3 separate regions of the Homo sapiens genome follow, and all the other regions are linked to region 2. Evidence: fine-mapped expression QTL. A gene starts in region 2. Each other region holds a variant in brackets. All regions are shown on one strand. Distances are from middle to middle. Region 1 overlaps CEP89 (centrosomal protein 89). Region 2 holds the start of GPATCH1 (G-patch domain containing 1). Region 3 overlaps RHPN2 (rhophilin Rho GTPase binding protein 2).

The links. PIP is the estimated chance that this variant, and not a neighbour inherited with it, causes the effect.
Region 1: its variant is the best candidate, but not a certain one, in a credible set for the expression of GPATCH1 in whole blood (GTEx, PIP 0.56).
Region 3: its variant is the best candidate, but not a certain one, in a credible set for the expression of GPATCH1 in whole blood (TOPMed, PIP 0.79).

Annotation. Positions count from the first base shown.
Region 1 is chr19:32,963,218-32,971,262 of GRCh38, reverse strand. CEP89 (centrosomal protein 89) reads left to right here. Exons shown (of 19, transcript NM_032816.5): 2 at 4,797-4,903. It also overlaps the pseudogene RPL31P60. Among named protein-coding and RNA genes, the nearest start is that of CEP89, 4.7 kb to the left of the region's middle. The variant A/C (reference allele first, on the strand shown) is at 2,983.
Region 2 is chr19:33,076,390-33,084,434 of GRCh38, reverse strand. GPATCH1 (G-patch domain containing 1) reads right to left here and starts at 3,254. Exons shown (of 20, transcript NM_018025.3): 1 at 3,169-3,254. The coding sequence starts at 3,241. RefSeq lists a cis regulatory region at 838 and enhancers at 754-923, 894-1,394, 3,030-3,359.
Region 3 is chr19:33,037,590-33,045,634 of GRCh38, reverse strand. It overlaps RHPN2 (rhophilin Rho GTPase binding protein 2), which reads left to right. Exons shown (of 15, transcript NM_033103.5): 2 at 1,271-1,386. Among named protein-coding and RNA genes, the nearest start is that of RHPN2, 23 kb to the left of the region's middle. RefSeq lists enhancers at 1,765-2,315, 3,501-4,002, 4,134-4,278 and a cis regulatory region at 4,200-4,213. The variant A/G (reference allele first, on the strand shown) is at 4,413.

The sequences.
Region 1 (8,045 bases), 110 kb after region 2:
CATTTTTCCCTCCTCCACCCACCATGTACACCCCATCAGCAAGTCCCATCCGATATACCCACTACATACATCTGCCAGCTGTTCCCATCTCCACCCACACCCCGGCCTCCAGCATCTGTCTGGACTGCTGCGGCAGATCCTCACTGGTTTCTCTGCTTCCACTCTCGCCCTTCCCCTAGGTCCATTCTCCACGTAGCAGCCAAGGGGATTCTTATATTTATTTATTATTTAATTTAGTTTTAGAGACAGGGTCTTGTCCTGATGCCCAGGCTGGAGTACAGTGGCATGATCATAGCTCACTGTGGCTTCAACCTCTTGGGTTCAAGTGATCCTCCTGCCTCAGGCTCCTGAGTAGCTGGGACTACAGGTGTGCACCACCACACCTAGGTATTTTTTATTTATTTTATTTTTTGCCTCACACTCTGCCAAGTCTCAATGCCTGGCTAATTTTAAAAATTATTTTGTAGAGGCCACGTGAGGTGGCTCTCACCTGTAATCCAGCACTTTGGGAGGCTGAGGCAGGCGGATCATTTGAGGTCAGGAGTTCAAGATTAGCCTGGCCAACATGGTGAAAACCCATCTCTACTAAAAATACAAAAATTAGCGGGCGTGGTGGTGGGCACCTGTAATCCCAGCTACACGGGAGGTTGAGGTGGGATAATCGCTTAAACCCGAGAGGCAGAGGTTGCAGTGAGCCAAGATTGTGCCACTGCACTCCAGCCTGGGCGACAAAGCTAGACTCTGCCTCAAAAAAACATAATTTTTTTTTTTTGGTAGAGATGGGGTCTGGGTATGCTGCCCAGGCTGGTCTTAAACCTTGGCTCAAGCAATCCTCTCACCTTGGCCTCCAGAGTGTTGGGATTACAGGTGTGAGCCACTGCATCTGGCTTGAGTTTTTATTTAAAGCCCCAAACATTAATGAGTCCCTGCTGTGTGCTGATACCCACAACTGACAGCTTATGGCCACACGGTCTGTAGGATAGACAAGCCCATAAATAATTCTGTACACAATGGTAAAACAAGAACTGCTGTTGATGTGTGTACCAGAAGGGCAGTGACGTCAGCCTGGAGAGTTGGCCTGGGCCTGGCAGGGAGTAAGGAAAGAATTCTGGGTGCAGAAGACAGCAAATACCAAGGCCTAAAAAAGAATGAATTATTTGCTGTTTGGGAAATGGAAGCCCACGCTGAGTGCTGAAGCACAGGGACTCTGCGCAGGAAGAGGAGGGGAAGCAAGAAATGAATTTGGGTCCTTGTGATGGCAGTGGCTGCTGCCATCACGCTGTGTGGCTAGGGCTGCACACTTCATGGAGCCGGTGGAAGCCCCGTCCCTCATGAGTTGGGACTGGAGCCGCAAACCGCTGCTGCAGACCCAGGCCTTCTGCTCTATGGAGCAGGCAGGAGCCCCACCCTCTTGGGCAGGGCTACAGCCACCCAAACTGCAGCTGTGGATCCGAGCCTCTCTGCTCCTGGGGGAGCCGGGAACAGGCAGAATTTGCCCTTCCAGATGCAGCTGCAGCCGCGCAGGCAGGAGCCAGGGACAAGTGGGAGCCCTGCCTCTTCCAAGTTGGCGGGGTGGGAGCTCCCAGGTGCAGCTGTGGCTGCCCCCCCAGGCACAGGACGAGGGCATCTCTGTAGCCTGCACCATCGGCCATCCCAGGAAGGACAGCCCCCTTCACCCTCCATCCCTGCAGGCTCAGGGGTGTCTGCTTCCACTGCCTGGCCTCTCTCCACTCCAGCAACTGCTCTGATCTTGGAGGGGAGTCGGAGCCAAGACCTGCAGCCATGAATGGCAGCAGGAGGAAGGGGGTGGGGTCCCCAGTAAGGCCCCACCCTCAGGCCAGGGAGGGCCTGAATTCTGGGGGCTGGGCTGCCAGTCCCTCTGACCAGAGTGGAAACTCGTGGAGCCTTTTCTGGGCCTGCCAATGGCCCAATCAGCACACACTTCTTCCCCGCTGAGGTCCATAAAAACCCTGGGCTCAGCCAGAGCAGCGCAGAGAATAGCCAGAGGATGAAGATGGTAGAGACGAGGGGACAGGATGACCAGCTGCAGAGAGCAGTACCCTCTCTGCTGATAGCTGGAGACGGTGGGGTGACCAGCTACAGAGAGGAGTACCTTCTCCGCTGAAAGCTACAGAGACCACCTGCCAGCAGAGAGGAGCTACACTCTGCTGCGAGCTTCAGAGACCTGCAGAGACATTGGAATGACTTGCCTGCGGAGAGGAGCCACTCTCTCCAGGGCCTCCTCTCTGTTGAGAGCTGAATGGTTGAGCTCATGGGACAATCTGTCTCCAGAGAGGAGCTACCCACTCCTCTGAGCTCTTCTAACACTAAATAAAACTCCTCTTCACCCTTCACTTGTCTGTGTACCTCATTCTTCCTGGATGCAGGACAAGAACTCAGGCAAAGGCACTGTGGCCACAGAGGTTCCGGCCAGAAAAATCGACACCCCAAAAATCCCATAACACTTGGTAGGAACCAACCTATATCAGCCTGATAAGCCATGCTGGACATTTGCCTGCCGTTGAGAGAGTGGTGCTGCCCATGAGGGTTTTTATGCCCAGTAGAGACAGGATTGATGAGGGGACCATAGTTAGGAATGATTGTGATGGTATGAGGGGGGATTCACTCTTTAAAAAAAAAAAATCTTATGCAGCCTTTTTGGAGGACCTGCTGGACGCCAGCCCTTGGGATTCAAAGGTTAAGAAAACCTTTTCTGGCCAGGTGCAGTGGTTCACACATGTAATCCCAGTATTTTGGGAGGCCAAGGCAGGCGGATTGCCTGAGGTCAGGAGTTTGAGACCACCCTGGCCAACATGGTAAAACCCCATCTCTACCAAAATACAAAAATTAGCTAGGCATGTTGGCACATGACTGTGGTCCTAGCTACTTGGGAGGCTGAGGCATGAGAATAGCTTGAACCCAGGAGGTGGAGGTTGCAGTGAGCCAAGATCGTGCCACCGCACTCCAGCCTGGGTGACAGAC[A/C]AGACTGTCTCCAAAACAAGCAAACAAACAAAAACCATTTCTTGTCGTGTAGCAGGTGGTGGAGGGGGGCAGGGTGGAAACATGGAAACTGTGGAATCACTTGACAAATACAGGGTGGCAGGTGCCACACAGAGGTAAACAGAGTGGGGGTATTGGGTAGAGACTGCTTGGAGCTTCTGCTCCTGTGGGTGGCTGTGCAAGTCGGTGGTGGGGGCTGTAGGAGATGACTGGAAGGTGTGCCCATCCCTCACTCCTGAAAGATGCCCCCACTCTGTGCCACCCTTCCCAGCCTTGTGTCTCGTGCTGACCACTACCTAACATTCCTGGGGCCACTGTCAGTGGGTGCTCCTCACTAGGCCTTGGGATTTCCTCCATCTGCTCTGGAAGCCCTTCCCATGGGAATTGTCCCCACCATGCCCCCAAGCCCCACCCTCGAAGATGCCTCTAGTCTAGCAAAACGGAGAATCGTGCTTATGATTTCCGAGCACTGCAACCAATGTCTTGCTCCATTCCTTTGTTCATGCCGTTCCCTCTTCCTAGAATGCTGTTCCGTCACATTTCCAAATGTGGGACCAGTGGGCATCTCTGAAAGCCCAGTCTAAACGCCTGTGTGATTTTCTCGAAGGAAAGCATTTGAAATTCCCAGGCTGGCCCCAGACCTGGAGGAATCTTCCCTCCCTGCCCACCCCAGCACTTTGTGCTAATTACTGGCTTCAAATAGAAAACAATAGTGTTTTTATCCCACATCTCATTGATGCTCTTTTTTTTTTTTTTCATTTTTAGTGAGAGCCTTTCTCCCGGCTCATTCCATAATTCTATGTTCTGTAATAATTATTTGGGTGTTTTTCCTCCCTTCTCACCACTTTGGGGATGAAGACAAGGTTTCTTCATTGCTGTCATGGTGTTTTGCCTCTAGTAGGTGTGAATGAATGGCTCGTGCCAAGAAAATGATTGGACTAGACCCAGAAACGTCTCAGAGACTCCCAGTTACAGTTACCTAAAGCGGAGCTCTCTGACTTTCATTGTGTATAGGAGCTAGTTTTCATTACTCTCGTCTTGGAGATAAGCCACCTAAAAGCTTATATTAAGCCCCTATGAGGTGTGAGGCAATGTGCTCAATGCTAGAGTTCCAGGATTGATAAAGATAAGAGAGTGGGCCAGGTGCAGCACTCGCACCTATAATCCCAACACTTTGGGAAGCTGAGGTGGGAGGATCACTTGAAGCTAGAAGTTCGAGACCAGTCTGGGCAATGTAGTGAGATCCTGTCTCTACAAAAAAATACAAAAATTACCTAGGCATGGTGGTGAACATCTGTAGTCCCGTCTACTCGTGTGGCTGAAGCGGGAGTTTGAGGCTGCGGTGAGCTATGATCGTACCACTGCACTCCACTCTGGGCAACAGAGCAAGACCCCATCTCAAAAACAAAACAAAGCGAAAAACAATAAGGATATCACTTGCTTCTCAGGAAGTCGCCCTGCTCTGCAGGGGGAGCCACATGAGACATCACTGGGGGGAGTGCTGTGGGACACATGGAAGAGCTAGAGGGTGACTCTTGGGGACAGCCAGGGAAGCTCTGAGGAGGGAAGGACAAGAGGGCCACACAATGAGCAGCTATCATGATGCTCCTTGGCTGTGTGCACTTGTCTGGCCTGATGGGGACTGGGGATGGCAGGGGAGGAGTGGGCTTCTGATGGGTTTGGATCCATGGGTGGCCAGTGCAGGTGTCCCCTTGCAGGCCCAGGGAGAGTGGTGACAAGACTCAGGTGATCCAGTGACCCAACCCAGTGACTTCTGTTGGATTTCATTTGTGCAGAAACACATCATCCATGGCCTTTTACCTGCAGCCAGCGTTGCTCCGAAGGCAGCTGTGCCACGCACACCTCCTCCCCGCAGCCCCAACCCATCTCCAGAGAGACCAAGGTGAGTATCAGATGAGCAGGCACTGAGGTCACCCCTGTGCTCAGCCTCCAAGTACTGGATCCTGGAACTGCTCAAACTGCCCAGAAAAGTATAAGTAGGGTGGTTAGAATCATGTCCTTCAAAATGTTTACCACGATTCCATAATGATGCAATTAATATGGTGTCTCTGAGGATAATGGACTGACTTGAGGTCTCTCCTTTTCAGGTGCATGAACTTCTCACATTTCATGATTGAATGCAATGAGTATTTAAAAAAAAATGTAAAGCATTAAAGCCCAAGTATTCAGGTTAACAGGGAATTTTGAATTATACACATAATTTTCTTTCTTTTTTTTTTCCTTCGAAACGGAGTCTTGTTCTGTTGCCCAGGCTGGAGTGCAGTGGCGCAATCTTGGCTCACTGCAGCCTCCACCTCCCAGGTTCAAGCAATTCTCCTGCCTCAGCCTCCGGAGTAGCTGGGATTACAGGCACATGCCACCACGCCTAGCTAATTTTTGTATTTTTAGTAGAGATGGGGCTTCACCATGTTGGCCAGACTGGTCTCAAACTCCTGACCTCTTTCTTAATCCGCCTGCCTTGGCCTCTGAAAGTGCTGGGATTACAGGCATCAACCTCCGCACCCAGCCCATTTTCTTTTTTTTTTTTAATTATTAATTTTTTTTTCAAGGCAAGATCTTGCTCTGTTGCCCAGGCTGGAGTGCAGTGGTGCAATCATGGCTCACTGCAGCCTCCACCTCCCAGGCTCAATCAGTTCTCCCATCTCAGCCCGCCGGGTAGCTGGGACTACAGGCATGTACCACCATGCCCAACTAATTTTTCTATTTTTTATAGAGATAGGGTTTTGCCATGTTTCCCAGGCTGAAATCCTGGGCTCAAGCAATCCACCTGCCTCTGCCTCCCAAAGTGCCTGGGATTACAGACGTGAGCCACTGTGCCTGGCCAAAACAAAAAGTTTTTTCGAGATATGGTCTCATTCTGTTGCCCAGGCTGGAGTGCATTGGTGCGAACGTGACTCACTGCAGCCTCAACCCCCTAGCATCAAGCGATCCTCCTGTCTCAGCGTCCTGAGTAGCTGGGACTACAGGTACACACCACCATGCCTGGCTAATTTTTTAAATTTTCTGCAGAGATGGAGGTCTCACTATGTTGCCCAAGTTGGTCTTGAACTCCTAGGGTAAACTGATCCTGGGAGGCTGAGGCAGGAGAATTGCTTGTGCCCAGGAGTTTAAGATCAGCCTGGGCAACATAGCAAATCCTTATCTATAGCAAAAATCAAAAGAAAATAAATTATCTGAGCATGATGGTGCATGTCTGCAATCCCAGATACTCGGGAGGCTAAGGCTGGAAGATCACTTGAGCCCAAGAGGAAAAGGCTGCGGTGAGCTATGATCATGTCACTGCACTGCAGCCTGAGCAACAGTGAGGCTGTTGTGAGTGAGGCCCTGCCTCTAAAAAAGTTTATTTTAAAAAGATAATTAATAGGGTAGCTCCTGAAAAAGAAAAAAAGATAATAAATATATCTATCATTCTGACAAGGGTCCTCATGCTCCTTTGTAATTCCTTCCCCCTGCCCCTCTCTGCCACCTTTCATGCTCCTGTTCATCCCCAGGCAACCTCTCATCTCCTTTCTCACACTATGGATTAGCTTGTATTTTCTAGAATTTTATATAAGTGGAGTTACATAAAATACACTGCCTTCCTTCACTCAGCATGATTATTCTGATTAACGCGTGTTCCGAAAGTCAATAATTCATCCTTTTCCTTACTGAGTAGTATTTCATTATATGAATATGCCACAGTTTGTTTATCCATTCTCCTGTTGATGGATATTTAGTTTGTTTCTAATTTTTGGTTACTAGAAAAAGGCTGCTGTAAACATTTACACACTGGCTGAGTGTGGTGGCTCATGCCTATAATCCCAGCAATTTGGGAGGCTAAGGCAGGCAGATCACCTGAGCTTAGTAGTTTGAGACCAGCCTGGTCAACACGGTGAAAACCTATCTCCACTAAAAATACAAAAATTAGCTGGGTGTGGTGGTGCACTCCTGTAGTCCCAGCTACTGGGGAGGCTGAGGCACGAGAATCGCCTGAACCTGGAGGCAGAGGTTGCAGTGAGCCCAGATCGCACCACTGTACTCTAGCCTGGGCAACAAAGCGAGACTTATATCTCAAAAAAAAAAAAATGTATACACAAATGTTTGGATACATACTTTCATTTCTCGGGTAAATATCTATAACTGGGCCTTATACTAGGCAGGTATTTAATTTATTAAGGAACTGTCAAACTATTTTCCAAGGTCATTGTCCCATTTATGTTCCCACCAACAGTATATGAGTCCAGTTGCTTCATATTCTCACCAACACTTGGTTTGGTCAGAGTGTGTGTGTGTGTGTGTGTGTGTGTGTGTGTGTGTGTGTTCATGTGCATGCGTGTGAGTGCGTGTGTGTGTGTGTGTGTGTGTGTGTGGTCTTTTATAACTTGGACAGTCAGTGGTTAGTTTTCATCCACATTGACTGTAGGTTTTTGAAAGTGGTGACAGTTGCATAGCTAACCAATGTACAGAGCTTGTTTGATCAATCTTCATCTTCATTACGCTTTCTGGACAGTGGTACACAGATAGGGTGAGGGATATTCCTTACTCCTTTGTCTGAGACAGCTTTGTTGAGCCCGGCATCAATGCACACATCTCGAGTTCCTAGCTCTTTCATGGAAAATTTCCAGATCTCTTTGTGTATGCCAGGGGCAGTGTCTTAAAGCACACTCCATAGGTGTGCTCATGAGTGCTGATAGTGTGCTTTCTGGTCACAACCTTGTTGACGACAGAACAACCCTTCTTATTGCCCTCCTTTGTGGAATCCATTCTCATAGGCCCAGTTTAGAATAAAAGAGCACAAGGGGTTGTCTTGGTCAGTTTTTAAAATTTTGGACATTTCATGAGCGTGTACTAGTATTTCATTGTGGTTATTTTTGTTTTTTTGTTTTTGAGATGGAGTCTGTTATTTTTGATCAGAGTCTCATTCTGTCACCCAGGCTGGAGTGCAGTGGAACGATTTCAGCTCACTTCAACCTCCGCCTCCTGGATTCAAGCGATTCTCATGCTTCAGCCTCCTAAGTAGCTGGGATTACAGGCATGCACCACCA
Region 2 (8,045 bases):
ATGAGCTGTAGATAAGAATTCTAGAACCAAGTGGAAGTGTCTAAGGAAAGAATAGGTAAGTATCTGGCCCCCTTCTTTCCAGATTAGAAGGCCTATGTGTCTATAAAGTTCAGCCACTGTCACTAGGCTCCCTGGTTAACTCTTAACTAATAAACCTTTCTGTCAGGGCCAGCAACTTTAATTAAAATGGAGTTCTCCTCTACCAATGCCTGTCTAACCTGTCACTAAAACTTCAAAGCAGGGAGTAAAAATAATTATTAGTCTAGTGTGTTATATCGTAAAATACAGACAGAGTGCATTTAAATTTCAAAGTGCTTAGAAAACTGGCTGGGCATGGTGGCTCACGCCTGTAATCCCAGCACTTTGGGAGGCCGAGGCAGGCAGATCACCTGAGGTCAGAAGTTCGAGTCCAGCCTGGCCAACGTGGTAAAACCCTGTGTCTACTAAAAATATAAAAATTAGCCGGGCATGGTGGTGGGCACCTATAATCCCAGCCACTCGGGAGGCTGAGGCTGGAGAATCTCTTGAACCTGGGAGGCAGAGGTTGTAGTGAGCCGAGATCGCACCATTGCATGCCAGCCTGGGTGACAAGAGCGAAACTCTCAAAAAAAAGTGCTTAGAAGACAATGAATCAATCCTCAAAAACTTGTATTACTGAGAAGTTAAAGAATGTTTTTAGTCCAGAAAAACAAAGTCTACAAATCCATGTCCTTTCCTTCCACTTCAAAAGCAAGGTTGGGGGCCACATGCAATGGCTCACGCCTGTAATTCCAACACTTTGGGAGGTGAAGGCAGATGGATTGCTTGACCTAAGGACTTCAAGACCAGCCTGGCCAATATGGCGAAACCCTGTCTCTACTAAAAATACAAAAATTAGCCAGGCGTAGTGGAATGTACCTATAATCCCAGCTACTTGAGAGGCTGAGGCAGGAGAATCGCTTGAACCTGGAAGGCGGAGGTTGCAGTGAGCCGAGATCGCGCCACTGCACTCCAGCCTGGACAACAGAGCGTGACTCTGTCACAGAAAAAAAAAAAAAACAAAAACATGGTTGGGGCCAGGCGTAGAGAGTCACGCCTATAATTCCAACACTTTAAGAAGCTGAGCTGGGAAGACTACTTGAGGCCAGGAGTTCAAGACCAGCCTGAGCAACATAGAAGGATCCCATCTCTATTTTTTTTTTTTTTTTTTTTGAGACAGAGTCTCGCTCTGTCGCCCAGGCTGGAGTGCAGTGGCGCCATCTTGGCTCACTGCAAGCTCTGCCTCCCAGTCTCACGCCATTCTCCCGCCTCAGCCTCCCGAGTAGCTGGGACTACATGAGCCCCCCCCCACCACGCCCAGCTAATTTTTTTTTGTATTTTTAGTAGAGACGGGGTTTCACCGTGTTAGCCAGGATGGTTAGGATCTTCTGAATTCGCGATCTGCCCGCCTCGGCCTCCCAAAGTGCTGGGATTACAGGCGTGAGCCACCACGCCCGGCCTCATCTCTATTTTTAAAATAAAAAATGTTGGGCACTGTGGCTCATGCATGCAATCCAGCACTTTGGGAAGCCAAGGTGAGAGCATCGCTTGAGGTCAGGAGTTTGAAACCAGCATGGTCAACACAGCAAGACCCTGTCTCTATAAAAAAAGAACTTGGGATAGTGAGTGTAGAACAGAGATGTCTTAAGAAAATGCAACAGCTGACTTCAAACACATAAAAAGCATTCGGAAGACTAGCCTTTCTCAGCCTTTTGTTTCGTTTGTTTGTTTGTTTGTTACAGACAGAGTCTCACTACAATGCCCAGGCTGGTCTCAAACTCCTGACCTCAAGCAATCCTCCCACCTCAGCCTCCCAGAGTGCTGGGATTACAGGTGTGAACCACTGTGCCTGGCCCCTTTCTCAACCTTTTGTAAGCCGAGGGTAGAAGAAGGGCCAGTATCCAGCAGAAGTTTCCACCAGAACTGTTTGTAGGAAATAAAGGGGGCATAAGTGGAGATATCCCAGAAGTACAATCAACCTGGCAGGATGTGGTCAGGGTGAAAAAAGGGAGGGGACCCCCACCAACAGGAGGTCTGCAAATAAATTGTGGCCCAATGATTCCACCATTCTTCCTCTGCCTTCCCTACAGGGCTAGCACAGCCAACAGCCCTTACTGGACACTCAATACATAACTTGCTGAACAAGTCAAGTCGTTAAGTGGAACAGACCAGAAACACAGGAGAGAACCTTGATTCATCTTGCCCCTCACCCCCACATTCCACCAGCAAGTATGGTCAGCTCTGCTTTCAAAATATATCTCCACCCAGACCACTACACACCACCACCACTGCTGTCCCATCCATGCCACCATCATCTCCTGACCTCTTTTTGCTAATCTCCCTGCTTCACTCTTACCCATCCCCAACCAGTGTATTCTCAACATCAAAGATAGAATAACATTAAAAATTGGCCGAGCACAGTGGCTCAAGCCTGTAATCCCTGCACTTTGGGAGGCAGAAGCGAGAGGATCACTTGAAGTCAGGAGTTCAAGACCAGCCTGGGAAACAGAGCAAAACCCTGTCTCTAAAAATCATATATATATCCCTCCCTGTGTAATTTCCCATGACCCTAACCCTAACCCTAATCCTGCACTTAGTACAAGATCCAAACTCTTTACCCTACCAAGTAAGATCCAGCCCCTGTCAGCCCCTCTGACATTCTTTTCTACCTGTCTCCCCCGCTGTCATCTGCTGCAACCATACCCGTCCTGCCTGCCCCTCAATTTCCTAAACTGGCTCCCACTTCAGGGCCTTTGCCACTTTATGTTCCTTCTGCCTGAAATGCTTTCCCTCCAGATTTGCTCATGGTTGTTTTCTTCCTCGGTTTCAAGTCTGAGCTCAAACGTCCTCTCTCGGGGAAGACACTGCCTGAGCACCCCCCGCTCTCACACTAGCTATTCCGTCATTTTCTTGTTTCTATCTCGCCGCCCCCTTGTTCGGCCACGCTTGTGTCTCCCGTCCCTGTAAACCTCTCTCTGTCGCTGCAGAAGGTGAGCACCCCGAGAGCGCGGCTAACGCCTCCCTCGTCGCCGTGTTCCCAGCGCTGGGAACGATCTAACAATGGTCCAGCACCGACTTGTGCTTTTGTGGCCCGAATCCTGGGCCCTTGGCCTGTTTTCCACAGGCTCCGCCGGCCCACGCGGCCCGCACCTTCTTCCAGAGGCTCCAGCCCGGTCCCATAGCTGACCAGATCTTCTTCGCTGTCACTGTCCCGCGCCGCCATCCTGCTCTTCCGGGCCCCGCCCCCTCGCTACGGCGGCCTTGGCAGGCCAAACGCCTTTCCTCTTTCTCCTCCGCGAACCCCGGTGATGCTGGAAGGCTGGGTCCGCGGGCGGGGGAAGGTGTCCTAGCGGCCCGAGCCTGCGCTCCGGATTCTCAGGCCCATCCTGTGGTAGGCCGTCCCAGGCAGGAGTTGCCTCGGAGGATTTGGCAGCCACGACATCCCATCCTAGCCCCGCGATGTGCGGGTGAGGAGGAGACTCCTGGCATAAGCTGGAAGCCACCCAACTGTTCCCTGCGAGGCGACACCGATGCCTGCCCAGCCCCCTACCCCCGTCCCTCGCGCCAGCCCCCTGCCTTGGCAGCAGTCACTGCCCAGCCCCGTCCACTCCCACCGCCCACCCAGCCACCTCCAGGGAAATGGCTGAGCTCCCAGATTTCATGCTCGCCCCGTGGGGCTTCGCTTTATTTTTATTATTATTATTTTTTACTTTTATTTTGGGTTCAGGGGTACATGTGCAAGTTTGTTATATAGGTAAATTGCATGTCGCAAGGGATTTGGGTTACAGATTATTTCCTCCCCAGGTAATAAGCATAGTACCCAATAGGTAGTTTTTCCGATCCTCACCCTCCTCGTACCTTCCACCCTCAAGTAGGTCCACCCTCAAGTAGGCCCTGGTGTTATTCCCTTTTTTTTTTTTTTTTTTTTTGAGACAGAGTCTCGCTCTGTCGCCCAGGCTGGAGTGCAGTGGCCGCGATCTCAGCTCACTGCAACCTCCGCCTCCCAGATTCAAGTGATTCTCCTGCCTCAGCCTCCTGATAGCTGGGATTATAAGCGTCCACCCCACCACGCCCTGCTAAATTTTTGTTTGTTTGGTTGGTTGGTTGTTGTGGTGGTTTTTTTTTTTTTTTTCTTGAGACAGAGTTTCACTCTTGTTGCCCAGGCTGGAGTGCAATGGCACGATCTCGGCTCACCTCAACCTCCGCCTCCCGGGTTCAAGCGATTCTCCTGCCTCAGCCTCCCTAGTAGGTGGGATTACAGGCATGCACCACTATGTCTGGCTAATTTTGTAATTTTTTTTTTAGTAGAGACGGGGTTTGTCCATGTTGGTCAGGCTGGTCTCGAACTCCCCACCTCAGGCGATCCATCCACCTTGGCCTCCCAAAGTGCTGGGATTACAGATGTGAGCCACCGCACCCGGCCATTTTTTTTTTTTTTTTTTTTTTTTTTTGTATTTTTAGTAGAGACTGGGTTTCACCATGTTGGCCAGGCTGGTCTTGAACTCCTGACCTCAAGTGATCCACCCGCCTCGGCCTCCCAAAATGCTGGTATTACAGGCGTGAGCCACTGCGCCTGGCACCTGTCATTCCCTTCTTTATGTCCATGTGTGCTCAATGTTTAGCTCCCACTTATACGTGAGAACATGCAGTATTTGGTTTTCTGTTCCTGCATTAGTTTGTTTAGGATAATGGCCTCCAGCTGCATCTATGTTGCTGCAAAGGACATGGTCTTGTTGTTTCTTTTTTTTTTTTTTTTTGAGACGGAGTTCGCTCTGTCCCCCAGGCACGCCATTCTCTTGCCTCAGCCTCCCGAGTAGCTGGCACTACAGGCGCCTGCCACCACACCCAGCTAATTTTTTGTATTTTTAGTAGAGGCGGGGTTTCACCGTGTTAACCAGGATGGTCTCGATCTCCTGACCTCGTGATCCGCCCATCTTAGCCTCCCAAAGTGCTGGGATTACAGGCATGAGCCACCACGCCTGGCCAGTCTTGTTCTTTTTTTATGGCTGTGTAGTGTTCCATGGTGTATGTGGACCATATTTTCTTTATCCAGTCCACCATTTGTGGGCATGTAGGTTGGTTCCATGTCTCTGCTATTGTGAGTAGTGCCTCAATGAATATATGCATGCATTTGTCTTTATGGTAGAACAACTTATATTCCTTTGGGTATATACCCAGTAATGGGATTGCTGGGTCTAATGGTAGTTCTGTTTTAAGTTCTTCAGGAAATCTCCCAACTGCTTTCCAGTTGTAATTGTAATTTAATTGTAATTTTCTTTTTTTTTTTTTTTTTTAGTTTATTTTCTTTGTCTAGACAGAGTCTCACTCTGTTGCCCAAGCTGGAGTGCAATGGTGCGATCTCGTCTCACTGCAACCTCCAACTCCTGGGTTCAAGCGATTCTCCTGCCTCAGCCTCCTGAGTAGCTGGGACTACAGGCGTGCGCCACCACACCTGGCTAATTTTTGTATTTTTTTAGTAGAGACGGGGTTTCGCAATGTTGGCAAGGCTGGTCTCAAACTTCTCACCTCAGGTGATCCACCCACCTCAGCCTCCCAAAGTGCTGGGATTATAGGCATGAGCCACCTTGCTCATAGATCCTCTATAGACAGAGGATCTCTGTCTATAGAGACCCTGTCTCTAAGGGGAAAAAAAAAATAAAAAAGATATGAAGCAATTAGCCAGGTTTAGTGACAGTACTTGGGAGGGTGAAACAGGAGGATCACTTGAGCCCAGGAATCAGAGGCCAGCCTGAGCAACATAGCAAGACCCTGTCTCTAACAACAGCAACAAAAAGATATGGGATAATTCATTAACAGCAATACGTAATCAGAAAAACCTATAACCTGTGACAATACTATGAGTATTTTAAACTCCCCATGAGTTATCTGCAACATATGTTGATAAATGAGTTGTGGAATTAAATAATTCAAACTTAAAGCTGTTGGAACTTTATTGTTGATATTATTATTTTTTAGAGGCAGGGTTGGTGTGCAGTGATGCAATCATAGCTCACTGCAGCCTCAAACTACTGGGCTGAGGCAATCCTCCAGCCTCAACATCCCTGGTACTGGGACTACAGGCACCAGCCACCACGCCCAGCTGCTGTTGGAATTGTAAATGATCCTGAAACTTGAGAGGAATGTGGTTATGCAGCATGAATCACATGGCGAGCAGCTGTACCTTCTGCCCCTTTTACCCTAGAAATAACTAAGACCAAACAGGGCAGAGATAAGACTTCCTCAGACGGGTACACCCCTCACAGAGTAATAAAGCAATCTTCCTTGGAAGGTAGCATCCTATAGCTAGTCAAGTCACTGTAAGGATTGTATGTCTCTGCCTATATAAGTGAAACCGTAACTTCTCCACTTTGGAATGCTTTTTTTGTGTGTTTTTGCTTTCGTTTTTGAGACAATATCTCATTTTGACACCCAGGCTGGAGTGCAGTGGCAGGATCATGGCTCACTGCAGCCTTCCTCTCACCTCAGCCTCCCAAGTAGCTGGGACTACTAGTTGACAACGCTCAACTAATTATTTTATTTTTTGTAGAGACCAGGTCTCACTGTGTTGCTAAGGCTGGTCTCAAACTCCTGGGCTCAAGTGATCCTCCCACCTCAGCCTCCCACAGTGTTGGGATTATAGGCGTGAGCCATCGTGCCTGGGCTCCCCTTTGGAATGTTGACCCTATACATTTGGAATTGGTGTTTCTGGGTGGCTATCCTCAAGCTTTGGAATGTTTGAGGATAAATAAACATAGTAAACTATACTTAATCAGGGTGGGTGCAGTGGCGCACGCCTGTAATCCCAGCACTTTGGGAGGCCGAGGCAAGTGGATCATCTGAGATCAGGAGTTTGAGACCAGCCTGGCCAACACGGTGAGACCCTGTCTCTACCAAATGTACAAAAATTGGCCAGGTGTGGTGCCTCATGCCTGTAGTCCCAGCTACTTGGGAGGCTGAGGCATGAGAATCAGTTGAACCTGAGAGATAGAATTTGCAGTGAGTCAAGATTGTGCCACTGCACTCCAGTCTGGGCGACAAAGACTCTGTCTCAAAAAAAAAAAAAAAAAAAGAAAGTAAAGAAAGTTGGGCGAAGTGGCTCAAGTCCATAATCCCAGCACTTTGGGAGGCCATGTAAGGAGGATCACTTGAGCCCAGGAGTTCAAGACCAGCCTGGGTAACATGCCAAAACTACCTCTACAAAAAATACAAAGATTAGCCAGGCATAGTGGTGCGTGTCTGTAGTCCCAGCTACTCCAGAGGCTGATATGGGAGAATCAATTGAGCCCCAGAGGCAGAGGCTGCAGTGAGCAGAATTTGCGCTACTGCACTGCAGCCTGGGTGACAGAATGAGACGCTGTCTCAAAGAAAAAGTAAAAGAAACCGGGTGCAGTGGCTCACGCCTATAACCCCAGCACTCAGGCAGATAACCTGAGGTCAGGAGTTTGAGACCAGCCTGACAAACATGGAGAAACCCTGTCTCTACTAAAAATGCAAAATTAGCTGGGCATGGTGGCGCATGCCTGTAATCCCAGCTACTCGGGAGGCTGAGGCAGAAGAATCACTTGAACCCAGGAGGCAGAAGGTGCAGTGAGCCAAGATCATGCCATTGCACTCCAGCCTGGGCAACAAGAGCAAAACTCCGTCTCAAGAAAAAAAAAAAAAAAGTAAAGAAAAGAAAAAGTAAAAGAAAGTAAAAAAGATTGGGGACAAATTCATATATTCAGACAAAACACCAAAGTCCATGATTTTATTTCTATATTACTCGTAATTTTCTTACAGCTTGTAGCTTCAAAATAGGCAAAGAACACCCAATAACTTTTTTATTTTATTTTAGTTTATCTTATTTTATTTTATTTTATTTTATTTTATTTTTGAGACTGAGTCTTGTTCTAGCACCCAGTCTGGAGTGGCGGCATCGTGGCTCACTGCAGCCTCCGCTGCCCGGGTTCAAGTGATTCTCCTGCCTCAGCCTCCCGAGTAGCTGAGATTACAGGCGCCACCACGCCTGGCTAATTTTTGTTTTTTCA
Region 3 (8,045 bases), 39 kb after region 2:
AGGCGTGGTGGTGGGCACCTGTAATTCCAGCTACTCGGGAGGCTGAGGCAGGAGAATCACTTGAACCTGGGAGGCAGAGGTTGCAGTGAGCCGAGATTGTGCCACTGCACTGCAGCCTGGATGACACAGCAAGACTCCATCTAAAAAAAAAAAATCAGATAGCACTGATGGTTCTGTAACTCCTGAATATACTAAAAACCAATGAATTGTTTATTTTAAAAGGGCAAAACGTATGGTATATGGATTATATCTCCATAAAGCTGTTACTAAATAAAAAAAGTAGGCCAGGCGCAGTGGCTCACACCTGCCATCCCAGCCCTTTGGGGAGGCCAAGGCAGGTGGATCACTTGAAGTCAAGAGTTCAAGACGAGCCTGGGCAACATGGCGAAACCCTGTGTCTACTAAAAATACAAAAATTACCTGGACATGGTGACATGCACCTGTAGTCCCAGCTACTTGGAAAGCTGAGGCATGAGAATCACTTGAACCCAGGAGTCGGAGATTGCAGTGAGCCGAGATCGCGCCACTGCACTGCATCCTAGGCACGCAGCGAGACTCCATCTCCAAAAAAAAAAAAAAAAAAAGTAGATACTCAGTAACAGTGAGGGGGAAAGCGGTCACAAGGGTGTGGGTGCCTTTCTGTCCTGGAGGATGATTGGGCTGGCCCATGGGTAGCCCTGAAAGGTTTGATCTTATAACTCTGCCCTAGAGATATGTCTTTAATTAATTTATTTATTTTTGAGACAGCGTCTCACTTTGGTTGCCGAGGCTGGAGTGCAGTGGCATAATCTCGGCTCACTGCAACCTTCAGCACCCAGGTTCAAGCGATTCTCGTGCCTCAGCCTCCTGAGTAGCTGGGATTATAGGCGCCCACCACCACACCTGGTTAATTTTTTGTATTTTTAGTAGAAACAGGGTTTCACCATGTTGGCCAGGCTGGTCTTGAACTCCTGACTTCAGGTGATCCACCCGCCTTGGCCTTCCAAAGTTCTGGGATTACAGGCATGAGCCACAGTGCCTAGCTCAGACCTTGTCTCTAAAATAAATTACATAAATAAAATAGATGAGAAGGAAAGACCAATTCACAGTGGCTGTTTTGCAATTGTGTTGTTATGAGCGACTTTTCTTTATACTTTTCAATATTTTCTATGTAGATGCTTTGTTTTCAGAAAAGATTATTTTTAAAGTTAAACATTTTCCATTATATTAAACCCTGTCATCATTTTTAGAGTGGCCGACCTCTGAAGGGGCATCTCTTATTTTTCCTCAGGGCTGTAATCCCCTTGCACAAACCGGCCGGAGTAAATTGCAGAATCAAAGAGCTGCTTTGAATCAGCAGATCCTGAAAGCCGTGCGGATGAGGACCGGAGCGGAAAACCTTCTGAAGTAGGTGTCTTCTGGCTTCCCTGCCTCTCCTGAGTCCTAGTCATCTGTTCCCTAAACTCCCAGGCCAGGCTCTTGGTTTCAGCTTTGGGTTTCCTCCTCATTTCTGGCATCTGGAGTCGTCCCTTTCTTGCCTATAGCTTGGTTATGTTGAAAACAGATATTTTACCCCGCCTGTTTGTGTGTTTGGGGATTGGGTGGGTGGGAGATAGATGCAGACGGTGTGGCATTTGGCTTCAATTCAGTCAGCCATCTTGATGGGAAGCCCAATTTTTGTCTCGAGGTTTGTTTTCTGGCTTTCTCTGGGACTTGTCTATTTTCTCCACTGCCTGACACTATGCCTGGTGCAGAATTTGCTTGGTAAATGTTTATTGAATATATAAAGGAAAGAAAAGCAGAAAGGAAGGAGAGGGGATATTTCTATTGCCAGTGTCCACCTTGCTAATGAGAGGGCTCAGTACACCCCCGTGATCTAGGGCACTCATTAGTATGCTCTCGTGGTAAAACAGTTACTTACCCAGCATAGAACTCAGAGAAGCCTTACCTGTGTCTAGACCTCTATAAACCCTCTCCAGGCAACGAAATGCAACAAAAGACAATGTGCCAGCACTCTGTTTACAAAGAGTGCAGAGTTTCTTCTTCCTTCAGAGTTCTACTGGAGACCATGGTTAGCCCCGTGCCGCCTTGTTTTTTGTTTGTTTGGAGACAGTCTTGCTCTGTCGCCCAGGCTAGAGTGCAGTGGCGTGATCTCGGCTCACTGCAACCTGTGTCTCCTGGGTTCAAGTGATTCTCCTGCCTCAGCCTCCCCAGTAGCTGGGACCACAGGCATGCACCACCATGCTTGGCTAATTTTTTGTCTTTTTAGTAGAGACGGGGTTTCACCATGTTGGCCAGCCTGGTCTTGAACGCCTGGCCTCAAGTGATCCGTCTGCCTCCACCTCGCAAAGTGCTGGAATTACAGGCGCGAGCTACTGCGTCTGGCGTCATGCCACCTTTTTTCTTTTTTTTCAGATGGAGTTTCGCTCTTGTTGCCCAGGCTGGAGTGCAATGTGCAATCACAGCTCACTGTAGCCCCCAACCTCCTGGGCTCTTCAAGCAATCCTCCTAACAGCCTACTGAGTAGCTGGGACCACAGGCATGCACCACCATGCCCGACTAATTTTTTTTTTTTTTGAGACGGAGTCTTGCTCTGTCACCCAGGCTAGAGTGCAGTGGCGTGATCTTGGCTCACTGCAACTTCTGCTTCCCAGGTTCAAGTGATTCTCCTGCCTCAGCCTCCTCAGTAGCTGGGATTACAGGTGCCCGCCACCGTGCCCGGCTCATTTTTGTATTTTTAGTAGAGACGAGGTTTCACCAACTTGGCCAGGCTGGTCTCGAACTCCTGACCTCGTGATCCACCCGCCTCAGCCTCCCAAAGTGCTGGGATTACAGGCGTGAGCCACTGTGCCTGGCCAATGCCCGACTGATTTTTTAAAAATTATTTGTAGAGACAGGGTCTTGCTGTGTTGCCCAGGTTGTTCTCGAACTGTTGTCCTCAAGTGATCCTCCTGCCTTGGTCTCCCAGAGTGCTGGGATTACAAACATGAGCCACTGTGCCTGGCCTGTGTTGCTTTTGTTACTCACGGAATACCTGATGACTTGAGGTCCTGGGTGGGAAGTTTGTCTGGGAATCTCTTCTCCAGCTCCTTTTGCAACTGGGTGCAAAGCAGGTTGTTACTGGAGGAGGCTGGGAAAAATACTGTAGCGTTTTGGCTTTTAAAAAGTCAAGCAGTGTCCCTATCCCAAGACAAGTTTGGACATGGGAATTGTCCACTCCCATAGCAGAGAGCAACTCATGTCATCTGTGTGACGTGAGAGAGGCCCCCGATTTTGGGACTCCCTGTCATGTGCTGGGAAGGCCGTGGTATGTTTTGTGGCCTAGGGTTCTGGTTGACCCTTGGACAGGCCTGCTCTGTGGCCAAGGGGGCAGGTGGGCAGCCTTGATGGTGTATGGCTTTCCTAGGAGTGGACAACAATTGATTTACCTATTCATGGATTCATTGAGCACCTTTTTTTTTTTTTTGAGATGGAGTTTCACTCTTGTTGCCCAGGCTGGAATGCAATGGCTCAATCTTGGCTCACTGCAACCTCTGCCTCCCATGTTCAAGTGGTTCTCCTGCCTCAGCCTCCCAAATAGCTGGGACTACAGGCACGTGCCAGCACACCTGGCTAATTGAATTTTTTAAAGTTTTAGTAGAGACAGGGTTTCACCGTGTTGCACAGGCTTGTCTCAAAGTCTTGGCCTCAAGTGATCCTCCTGCCTCAGCCTCCCAGAGTGCTGGGATTTCAGGAGTGAGCCCCTGTGCCTGGCTATTGAGCACCTGTTAAGTGGCAGGCACAGTTGAGGTGCCTGAAGATCAGGCGAGGCTCTGCTTTTGTGATTTCTCTTGTTGGAGGATGGGAGGAGACTTTTATAGACAAGTAAACAAATCAGATCACCTAGGGAAGTGATGTTTTCTAGGGAATAATGAACTCTGAATATCATAGAGGTTGGCCCAGGATGGCCAGCCTTAGAGACAGAGGGTGGTCAGAGAGGCCCCTGTGAGCAGGGAACTTGGACTTTCTCAGGCAGGAACTAGGGCAGTTTTGTGTGCCTTGTTCTCTTAACGACAACAGCAGTCACCCTTTCTGAGGCCCGAGCCTGACTCAAGCTCATTGTTAAACTGGCAGTGGTTGGGTTGGCAGGGGCAGGAGTGGGGGGTTGTTAATGATTCTCACAGTGGCCTAAAGGTTCAAAGTACCCCTTGCTGGAGAATGTTGTCAGAGGAAACCCTGAAGGTATTTATTAATCTGACTCAACAAGCACCAACGGTTTCCCGAAAACAAATAGGGCATTTTGCCAAGCTCCGCTCTGGCCCCTCAGTGTCCCTGGGCGACCCATTACGTGGCTGTCTCTGCAGGCCATGGGTGGTTTCAGTTGTAAATTAGGCCCTGCTTTCCTTCTGTTTGTCTTCTGGTTCCCAGGTTTCCTACCGCAGCCCCCAAAGGAA[A/G]GTAGATCTGTTGGAATAGGGGTGGGGGATGTTTGGAGGTGTCCCCAGAAATGCAGGAATGGAAATGGGGGTGCTAAGCCCTTATCTGAGGACTGTCAGAGGGTATCGTGGCTAGGCAGGCACTTGAAAAACCAGATTTTATGATCCTTCAAAGTCTTCCCCTTCTCTGATCCATTCCAGCTGGGAGTCCATGAGCTTCCTGGAGTTTTTTTAGGAAGCCATCAAATATTTCAAATGCACTTTTTTCAGGTTTGTTTGTTTTTTTTGAGACAGAGTCTCATTCTGTCTCCCAGGATGGAGTGCAGTGTCGAGATACCAGCTCACCTGCGCAACCTCCACCTCCTGGATTCAAGTGATTCTTGTGCCTCAGCCTCCCGAGTAGCTGGGATTATAGGCATGTGCCACCATGCCTGGCTAAATTTTATACTTTTAGTAAGACAGGGTTTCACGGTGTTGGCCAGGCTGGTCTGGAACTCCTGACCTCAGGTGATCTGCCTGCCTCAGCCTCCCAAAGTGCTGGAATTACAGGTGTAAGCCACCATGCCTGACCGTACTTTTTCATTTAGGCCAACCAGAGACAATATTCTGTCTTCTCCCAGCTTCCCTCCCTTGAGAAAAGCTAGGGTAGAAATATGATGAAGTTTATCTGAAATTGAGGCAGTCCTTGTGAAATTTAAAGCAGGGCCGGTGAGCACTGTGGCTCACTTCTGTAATTCCAGCATTTTGGGAGGCCGAGGTGGGCGAATCACAAGGTCAAGAGATCGAGACCATCCTGGCCAACATGGTGAAACCCCATCTCTAAAACTAAAAATAAAAAAATTAGCCGGGTGTGGTGGCACGTGCCCGTAATCCCAGCTACTCGGGAGGCTGAGGCAGGAGAATGGCGTGAACCTGGGAGGCAGTGCTTGCAGTGAGCTGAGATCGCGCTACTGCACTCCAGCCAGGGCCACAGAGCAAGACTCCGTCTCAAAAAAAAAAAAAAAAAAAAAAAGGCAGGTTGCCTAGTTTTAACTAGTTTTAGCTAACTAGTTCTTTGATTCTTTGAACAAGAGCAGGTCATTTAACCTCTCTGGGCTTCAGGTTCCCCTGTTGTGCTGAGAGTTGTTGGGCTAGATCAGAAGTGACCTGCTCCGAGGTTTACAGGGATCAGGTGGGCTTTAAATGAGTGAATGGGGCTGGATTCTGTGCTGTGAGACAACAGGGAGTGGTGGGGACTGTGGTGAAGTGCACAGCATATGCCCTGTCTGGATGAGGCAACTGCAGTTTGCCTCATGGAGGGTAGGGCCAGAGTTGCTGTATCTTCTAATTTTTTTTTTTTCCAGGAGAAGTTAGGAATTTTTTTTTGTTTTTAATCTGATTGTTGAATTTTTTTTTTTTTTCTTTTTGAGACAGAGTCTTGCTCTGTCACCCAGGCTGGAGTGCAGTGGCGTGATCTTAGCTCACTGCAACCTCTGCCTCCCAGGTTCATGTGATTCTCCTGCCTCAGCCTCCTGAGTAGCTGGGACTACAAGCATGCGCCATCATACCCGGCTAATTTTTGTATTTTTAGTAGAGACGAGGTTTTGCCATGTTGGCCAAGCTGATCTCAAACTCCTGACCTCAAGTGATCTGTCTGCCTCAGCCTCCCAAAGTGCTGGGATTACAGGCATGACCCACTGTGCCTGGCCGATTGTTGAATTTTTAAGTTTTGGGGACTCGTTTCAGAGGGGGGATAGTAACATCCTGAGAGCCAGGTGAACAAGTCCCTCGGGCCTTCAGTTTAGTTTGTGACCTCTGGACGGGGGTGATGAAATTCTGGGTCAGGAGTGACGTGAGGTGGCCTTGGCTGTCATGAGAGTGACTTGAGGTTGATGACAGCTCACACCGTCAGTTGTGGGAGGGCTGGTGTGTGTCTGTGGTGGGGTTTGCAGGCCCTCCATAGCCTTTGGGGCTGACATCAACATCAAGGCCCACCTTCCTCCATTGAGAGACAGGCTGGGAGCAGATGTCCTGCCGGTCTGGCTGATCAGCCACCTCAGCAGGGGATGGGACAGTCCTCGCTCCAGCCTCCTGAAACCCTGGCAGAGCGGGATTTGGGATCAGATGGACTAAGGCTAAGCTGCTCTAATAAGGTCGCTGAAGCTGCGGCAAGTCACTATGTCAATGTGGTGCTTATTCCTGGAAGGATAGTTTTATTAAAAGACTTGGGAGAAAAATAATTACACTAAAACAAATGGGGACAGAATGCAACATACACATGTATTACTTTAAAAAAAAAACTTTTTAGACCAGGCGTGGTGGCTCAAGTCTGTAATCACAGCACTTTGGGAGGCTGAAGCGGGCAAATCATTTGAGGTCAGGAGTTTGAGGCCAGCCTGGCCAACATGGTTAAACCTTGTCTCTACTAAAAATACAAAAATTAGCCACGCGTGGTGGCACACATCTGTAATCCCAGCTACTCGGGAGGCTGAGGCTGGAGAATCCCCTGAGCCCAGGAGTTCGAGGTTGCAGTGAGCCGAGATCGCGCCATTGCACTCCAGCCTGGGTGACAGAGTGAGACCCTGTCTCTTAACAAAAAGAAAAGAAAATTAGCTGGGTGTGGTGGTGTGCGCCTGTAATCCCAGCTACTTGGGAGGCTGAGGCAGGAGAATTGCTTGAACCAGGGGGACGGAGGTTGTAATGAGCTGCAATCATGCCATTGCACTCCAGCCTGGGTGACAGAGCGAGACTCCGTCTCAAAATAAATAAATACATAAATAATAAATAAATAAAATTTTTATATTTATTCATTTTGAGGCTGGGTCTTGCTGTGTTGCCCAACCTGGAGTTCAGTGGTATGATCACAGCTCACTGCAGCCTCAACCTTCTGGGCTCAAGCTGTCCTCCCGCCTCAGCCTCCACAGGTGTGTACCACCATAGTAGGCTAATTTTTTTTTTTTTTTGAGATGGAGTCTCGCTCTGTTGCCTCCTGGGTTCAAGCGATTCTCCTGCCTCAGCCTCCCTAGTAGCTGAGATTACAGGCACGCACCCCCATGCCCAGCTAATTTTTGTATTTTTAATAGAGAGGGGGTTCACCATGTTGTCCAGGCTGTTCTCAAACTCCTGACCTCAAGTGATCCGCCCACTCGGCCTCCAAAAGTGCTGGGATTACAGACATGAGCCACCACACCTGACTGGCATTCGGCTAATTTTAAAAATTTTTTTGTAGAGACTGGGTCTCCCTATGATGCTCAGGCTGGTCTCAAACTCCAGGGCTCAAGCAATCCTCGTGCCTAGGCCTCCCAGAGTGCTGCGATGACAGCTGTGAGCCACCATGCCTATTTATTTATTTTTTGAGAGGAGGTCTCACTCTGTTGCCCACACTGAGTGTAGCAGTGCAATCCTAGTGTGTCCGGAATTGGTGGGTTCTTGGTCTCACTGACTTCAAGAATGAAGCGACGGACCCTCGCGGTGTTACAGTGCTTAAATGCAGCGTGTCTGGAGTTTGTTCCCTCTGATGTTCGGATGTGTTTGGAGTTTCTTCCTTCTGGTGGGTTTGTGGTCTCGCTGGCTCAGGAGCGAAGCTGCAGACCTCTGCGGTGAGTGTTACAGCTCTTAAGGCGGCACGTCTGGAGTTGTTCGTCTGGAGTTGTTCCTTCCTCCCGGTGGGTTTGT